2 linked regions of the Homo sapiens genome follow. The protein of the gene in region 1 interacts with the protein of each later gene in a pairwise test. Each region holds a gene or a part of one and is shown on either strand. Other genes may lie near its edges.

Region 1 (3,500 bases):
TTAATTATTGTTATACTTTAAGTTTTAGGGTACATGTGCACAACGTGCAGGTTTGTTACAAATGTATACATGTGTCATGTTGGTGTGCTGCACCCATTAACTCGTCATTTAGCATTAGATATATCTCCTAATGCTATCCCTCCCCCCTCCCCCCACCCCACAACAGCCCCCGGTGTGTGATGTTCCCCTTCCTGTGTCCATGTGTTCTCATTGTTCAATTCCCACCATTTTGAAGGGAAGTGTTAGTAGACAGTAGCCACCACTCTGGAAAAACATGAGATGAAGGAGATCACTGTAAGGGCATGAGCCCAGGTCAGGAGGTTTAGAAAACGCTTTGGCATCCAAGTTGACCATTTAAAACTTTTCCCTAAGAATAAGCCAAGCAACCAAAAAAGAATTTAATTCCTAGTCCAACGGAGGCATTCCAGTTATGTTCATTACCAGCCATTCTCATGTTTACAAGAAAATGCAAGTCATGGAAATCCTTTATTGAGATCTAGGGTTCAGTTATTAGGGGAAGTCATAGTTATTTCTGATTGTTGTCATTTTTATTTTTAAATTGTTTAAATTCAATGTACATAACTTTTTGAATCATATGGGTTAGTTAGAAAAAAATTAAAGAAATTTATTTGTAAATTATACAAGAGAATTGACAGGAATAATGAATAGGAGATACAAGAGAGCATCTGAAAAATTTTAAACTAATGGTTATAACAAAAAGAATCGCTTTTTAAACTGTAAACTATAGTGACACAAAAAATATTTGTTATTATAACATTTATATATAGGGAGAGAGAAAGAGAAAGTGATAGAGAGACATAGTGTGTGTGTGTCATTGAATCTTCCATTTTCCTGAAACACTACCCTATTGAGCTGTTTTTACTTAACTTTTATTAATCATATAATTTAATTCCAATATTTTGTAGAAAAAAGGGAACAATTCTGCCCACCGCCACCTCAGATACCTAATGCTCAGAATATGACAACCACAGTGAATTATCAGGATGGAGAAAAAGTAGCTGTTCTCTGTAAAGAAAACTATCTACTTCCAGAAGCAAAAGAAATTGTATGTAAAGATGGACGATGGCAATCATTACCACGCTGTGTTGGTTAGTAGTTTATTTCTAAGTAATTTCACTTAAAAAGAGGTTATTAATCCCCTTTGCTTTATCTAAAGAAAGAAACAAGAACTTATGACTAATCTGTTGCACTGTACCCCAAAGCCTTAAATTGCTAAGTAACCAATTCTGTCATTTAAAAAAGTTTCTCTAAGAGTTATCTCCAACAGTGTTCATAGAAGAAACAAGTTTGAAATTTCTACATCTTCTTAAAAATCTTTTCTATCATATTTTTACTGTACCTTTTCTATGTTTAAATATGTTTAGATATGCAAATACTTACCATCATGTCACAATGGCCTATAGTATTCAGTATGGTAGCATGCTGTACAGGTTTGTGGCCTAGGACAGCAATACCCAACCTTTTTAGCATCAGGGACATGTTTTGTGGAAGACAATTTTTCCATGGACTGAGGAGGTTGGGGGATGGTTTCAGGATGAAACTCCTGTGCCTCAGATCATCAGGCATTAGATTCTCATAAGGAGCATGCAACCTAGGTCCCTTGCATGTGCAGTTCACAATAGGGTTCAAGATCCTATGAGAATCTAGTGCCCTGGTTGATCTGACAGGAGGTAGTAATGCTGGCAGTAATGCTCATTCGCCTGCCTCTCACTTCCTGTCATGCAGCCCGGTTCCTAAGAGGCCACAGAGGGTACTGGTCTGCAGCCAGGGGTTTGGGGACAATAGGAGCAATAGGCTGCACCATATAGCCTAGGTGTGTAGTAGGCAACATTATCTAGGTTTGTGTAGGCTCACTCCATGATGCTCACACAAGGAAAAAAGAGCCTAATGACACATTTCTCAGAATATCTTCTTGTCATTAAGTGCTACATGGCTGCATTTCAAAAGCACATATTTCAAAATATTACTTGACAAAACATCAGATATGGCAAAGAGTGCTTAGAGCTGGACAAGATGCCTGATAATTGAACAATCTATTTATCTAAATAAAAACCATTGGTAATTTTGCCTAGAGATATTTCCATAGGGGGTAAGTAATTGCAGTGTGTTCAAGAAAGAATGTGGGGTGATAAAGTAAGATCATGGAGGATGAGAAACAAGTAAATGTGTTCAAAAGGGAATAGAGAAATGAGGCAGTTACCGGATAGAAGATATGGAGAAAGTGAAATTTTACCTTATTGAATTGTGACATTTTCAGCATGTTTGTAGGTTGGTGAATGATTAAGTGGAAAGGGAGACATTGATGTTACAGAAGAAAGGAGATAATTCATGAAGAAGGATCTTTTACAAGTTTAAAGGTGAAAGAATCTAGTGTCATCATGAAGAAGTCAATCTGAGAAAGCAAGGACAGTAACTCAATGAAACTAGAGGATGTACAAGCAATTTGGGATAGGATTACTTAGTGATTTCATATTTATGTTCTTGGTGATATATAAAGGGAGATCAGTCAGTACAATTGAACGTATTCCAGCCAATCTTAGCATGAAGTTGTTACTTTTTTTAGTTTTCCCCAAAATCTCTTCATTAGCATGAAGTTGAAACATTTATTGATAGGGAAAGATGCCTACAATATTATTTGGTATCAAAAAAGTAAATGCAGAAGAGTGTGTCTGCAATTCATTTTCAGTAAAACTACAAGTTTATGATCATATACTAGTTGGTATATGCTATTTGCATAAAGTAATAATTACCCTGAGACTAGAAACAGTAAGAAAGTTATTTACTTTTACCTTTCCTCTTTAAGTGACAATTGAATATTAAGGGGTGGAGGAGGAACCTAGACCAGAAGTTTACTCACCTGTCTCTCCTGCCTTCAATAAAAAGTATTCCCGGTATTTTATATGAATTTCACTTTAACATGAAAGGAGCTACAATATGTTTTGAATCAGACTTTATGACAGAAATACTGTAATTAATTATTTGAATTTCCAGACACCTTATATTAAAGATATGATACATGATGCTTCATTATATTATTTTGTTTAAACTAACATAATGTCTCAACAAATAAATGCTGTTTTCCAGAGTCTACTGCATATTGTGGGCCCCCTCCATCTATTAACAATGGAGATACCACCTCATTCCCATTATCAGTATATCCTCCAGGGTCAACAGTGACGTACCGTTGCCAGTCCTTCTATAAACTCCAGGGCTCTGTAACTGTAACATGCAGAAATAAACAGTGGTCAGAACCACCAAGATGCCTAGGTGAGTTCTTAATATTCTCTTGGAATCTGAGATTTAATATTTATAGTGTAATTTTTTTGGACTAATTTCATAGAATAACCCTTACTTAAGTTTCATTCAGTCAAAATCTTTCCTGTCAAATGTAAATACATACAAGGAAACATTTGAAAAATTTGCTTTATGCAAAGTGAGAAAAATTTATTTAAAAACTATAAATAAAATTTTAAAGACCT
Region 2 (4,127 bases), on another chromosome or scaffold:
CCTGTAGCCCCAGCTACTTGGGAGGCTGAGGCAGGAGAATAGCTTGAACCCGGGCGGCGAAGGTTGAGTGAGCCGAGATTGCACCACTGCACTCCAGCCTGGGCGACAGAGCGAGACTCCATCTCAAAAAAAAGAGTAGTAAGTTCCACCCACCTCCCAGTATGGTGACTTGCCATGGCATCTGGCACCCCTGACAGTTCTCTTCACACTGCCATGGGGGCTCTGGCACTCCCACACCATACCCTAGGGCAGGGTCCCTCCCTCGGCCTCTGTCCATTCTCTTCACACTGCCATGGGGGCTCTGGCACTCCCACACCATACCCTAGGGCTGGGTCCCTTCCTTGGCCTCTGTCCTCAGCCCCTCTGACGTTAGAGGAGTTGGAACCCAGGCTCCCCCTTCCCCTCTCCCAGGTGCCCCATGGCAGCCCAGACTCTGTGTCTGCAGTTCAGGGGCAGGGAGTCAGGAGGGCAGGCACAAAGCGTTCTCAGGAAGAACTGGCAATCGGGCGCAAGGGTATCATCTGCCCGGGTGCTCTGGGCACCCTGGAGTCCTCTCCCCACCTCCCACCCCCACCTGATCCTTCCCAGCTGCCACCATTCCTCTCCCACCACACCACCCAGGCCAAAATCACTCCATCCATGACGCCTACAGTAGCCCAGCGTAGGTCTCCCTGGACCACATTTATCCTCAAGGGCCTGTGTCCTTATCCCCCCTTCACCCCCAACTCTCCCCTGCCACAGCCAGCCCTCTGTTCCTCTCACACCCCAAGCTCATTCCTACCTTCACTGGCCTCTTACTCCCCAGCTGAAATATCACCTCCTTAGCAGAGCTTTCCCAGTGAGATAACCCCCCCGCTCCCCGCAGAGCTCTCCCATCACCCAGGGTGTTTCCTTCATGGAACTCATGACAATGTGAGGTTGCCATGTTTCTTTGCTAAGAGGTTTCTTGTGTAAACACCAGGAAGGAAAGGACCTGTGCCTGTCCTCTTCCCTAAGCACTTGAATGAATGAATGAATGAATGAATGTGGTATGGGTGCCTGAGTGAGCAGGACCTTGAATAAGTGTGAGGTCCTCTCTAGGCTTCAGCTTCCTCCGCCTCCTCCCCTCACCGCAGCCGCCTTCCTCCACCCATCCCCACCATCCCAGCTGCTGTGAAATGGGCAAATGTCTTGCCTCCAGGACCTGGGAAGGGTGATGCAGCTCACCTCCCTCCTGTTCACACCCCAGCCACCCCAGCCATCCCAGCCGGGTCCCAGCCACCCACACAGCACCTCCTCCTGGCCCCGCCCTGCCCAGCCCCTCCCAGGTGCCTGAGGTGGAGCCGCCAGTTCCCACAGCACCCCAGCGGCCTGCCATGGGGGGTCTAAGGCCCTGGTCCCGATACGGGCTCCTGGTTGTGGCCCACTTGCTGGCCCTGGGGCTTGGGGCTGTGGTGTTCCAGGCCCTGGAGGGGCCTCCTGCATGCAGGCTTCAGGCTGAGCTCAGGGCAGAGCTGGCAGCCTTCCAGGCAGAGCATAGGGCCTGCCTGCCACCCGGAGCTCTGGAAGAGCTGCTGGGCACTGCCCTGGCCACCCAGGCCCATGGGGTCTCCACCCTGGGCAACAGCTCAGAGGGCAGGACCTGGGACCTTCCCTCAGCCCTGCTCTTCGCTGCCAGCATCCTCACCACCACAGGTAAGAGAGCCAGGCAGCCAAGTCGGGGGGTGCGGCTCCAAGAGGCCATGGCTCCCTGGGGGCTTTGGGGTTCATGCAGCCCTTCCTTCAGCCCCAAAGAGCCAGATGGAGCCCAGGCCCTGTGAGGCCTGACATCACAGCTGGGGCTCCCCACCAACACACCCCAACTGGTGCCTCCACTTCAACTGCCAGGAAGGGTGTGGCCTCCCCAGTCCCACCCCAGGCACCCTTTGAGACCCAGGAGAGCTGCCCAGATGCCACAGCCTGTGGCCAGATAGGGGATACAATACAGTGGGATGGATTCTTGGATGGAAGCAAATAGAATGAACCTGGGAAGGACAGATCAGGACCATGGCCTCGGGTGGGGGAGTGAGGGAAGATAGGGGAGGAAGTCGGCATGAGATGCTTGTGGATCAGGAGGGCACAGACAGGGATGAGGGAGTCCTGCAGAGAAATCGCGTGGGCACAGGCCCAGGGAAAAGCAGCAATGAGACCCACAGCCCTGGGTTTTCGTATTTTTTGCCCCACAAAGTGTCTCAGTATTTTTTGAATTGGAATTTGTATTTCCAACTTTTTTTTTTTTTGAAACGGTGTCTGACCCTGTCACCCAGGCTGGGGTGCGGTGGTGCGATCTTGGCTCACTGCAACCTCCACCTCCCGGGTTCTAGCAATTCTCCTGCCTCAGCCTCCTGAGTAGCTGGGACTACAGGCATGCACCACCATGCCCGGCTAATTTTTGTGTTTTTAGTAGAGACGGGGTTTTGCCATGTTGGCCAGGCTGTTCTCAAACTCCTGACCTCAAGTGATCCACCTGCCTCAGCCTCCCAAAGTGTTGGGATTACAGGTGTGAGCCACTGTGCCCAGCTCATATTTCCAACTTCTTTTGGAAAATCAGGAAACCCACTCACACTGAGCCAGAATCCCTGCAAGGCAACATCCTGACTGGAGCAGAATGGGGCCTGCCCTTTGGATACAGCTCACACTTTCCAGTGTACCCCTGTCCCCACCACTCCTGTTTGTCTCCCATCTGGCTCCGGTAGGCATGTGCGTTTGCAGCTCTGTATTAGCTGATCCTGTTCTCCCAGCACACCCCGCACTCCCACCCCTCCCCGCCTGGCACATGCCCTCTCTCGCCCATGCTGCCTCTTTGCAGCCCTTCATGATTTGCCTGCCCGACTCCCCCACCAGAAGGGGCAGGGCCTGGGCTGATTCAGATCCCAGTACAAAGCCTGGCACACAGGACATGACACACATTTGGGGAAAGAGTGGATGATATTCCACCAGCTGTGGAATCGGGAGTATCTGTTAAGGGCAGCGCAGTTCTCAGAATTGTCCCAGCTACAAAAGGCCTGAGGAACTGTCTTCTTTCATCCTTTCATTTTCCAAAAAAGAAAAGAATGGCCTAGAGAGGGTAAGGGATCCCCTGACGAAGAGGAGCAGAGCCAGCTAGAACCTGGGCCTGGCCAGTTCAAGGCCACCAGAGGGCAGCCTTCTGCGGAAGGCAGTATTGGGGTAGGCAGGGACCCCAGCAGACATGGCACTCAGAGCTCTCACTGTCCACTGACTCTCTCTTCTCCAGGTTATGGCCACATGGCCCCACTATCGCCAGGCGGAAAGGCCTTCTGCATGGTCTATGCAGCCCTGGGGCTGCCAGCCTCCTTAGCTCTCGTGGCCACCCTGCGCCATTGCCTGCTGCCTGTGCTCAGCCGCCCACGTGCCTGGGTAGCGGTCCACTGGCAGCTGTCACCGGCCAGGGCTGCGCTGCTGCAGGCAGTTGCACTGGGACTGCTGGTGGCCAGCAGCTTTGTGCTGCTGCCAGCGCTGGTGCTGTGGGGCCTTCAGGGCGACTGCAGCCTGCTGGGGGCCGTCTACTTCTGCTTCAGCTCGCTCAGCACCATTGGCCTGGAGGACTTGCTGCCCGGCCGCGGCCGCAGCCTGCACCCCGTGATTTACCACCTGGGCCAGCTCGCACTTCTTGGTAAGTCCAGCCACCTAACAGCGTGTGGGGGAAGGGGGAAGAGGAGCCTGGACTAGGACTCCCATAAATCACTGGGGGGCTGGGCCTTGCAGGTGGAGGGACCTCACTCCAGGGCACGGCGTGGGAGGGGTAGTCGAAGAGCTCTGGTGGCAGCGTTGAGAAGGGGGTGAGTGGTGCCAGTTGCCAGGGCAAGTCACTGCGCTGGGAGGTGGGCGGGGAGCATCACCAGAACCCAGGCGCTGCCCCAGCACCTTCTCCTCCCCAGGTTACTTGCTTCTAGGACTCTTGGCCATGCTGCTGGCAGTGGAGACCTTCTCTGAGCTGCCGCAGGTCCGTGCCATGGGGAAGTTCTTCAGACCCAGTGGTCCTGTGACTGCTGAGGACCAAGGTGGCATCCTAGGGCAGGATGAACTGGCTCTGAGCACCCTGCCGCCCGCGGCCCCAGCTTCAGGACAAGCCCCTGCTTGCTGAAGCG

The links.
Region 2: the proteins of CFHR5 (region 1) and KCNK7 interact in binary tests that used the Homo sapiens proteins (3 or more experiments, as listed by UniProt).

What each region holds. Positions count from the first base shown.
Region 1 is NC_000001.11:197,001,556-197,005,055, forward strand, and holds part of CFHR5 (complement factor H-related protein 5 precursor), read left to right. Parts: intron 1-926; coding exon 927-1,109; intron 1,110-3,105; coding exon 3,106-3,288; intron 3,289-3,500. UniProt on the Homo sapiens protein: Involved in complement regulation. The dimerized forms have avidity for tissue-bound complement fragments and efficiently compete with the physiological complement inhibitor CFH.
Region 2 is NC_000011.10:65,593,001-65,597,127, reverse strand, and holds the start of KCNK7 (potassium channel subfamily K member 7), read left to right. Parts: upstream 1-1,327; 5' UTR 1,328-1,355; coding exon 1,356-1,674; intron 1,675-3,253; coding exon 3,254-3,652; coding exon of another isoform or gene 3,653-3,708; exon of another isoform or gene 3,709-3,744; coding exon of another isoform or gene 3,745-3,785; exon of another isoform or gene 3,786-3,917; coding exon 3,918-4,123; 3' UTR 4,124-4,127. UniProt on the Homo sapiens protein: Probable potassium channel subunit. No channel activity observed in vitro as protein remains in the endoplasmic reticulum. May need to associate with an as yet unknown partner in order to reach the plasma membrane.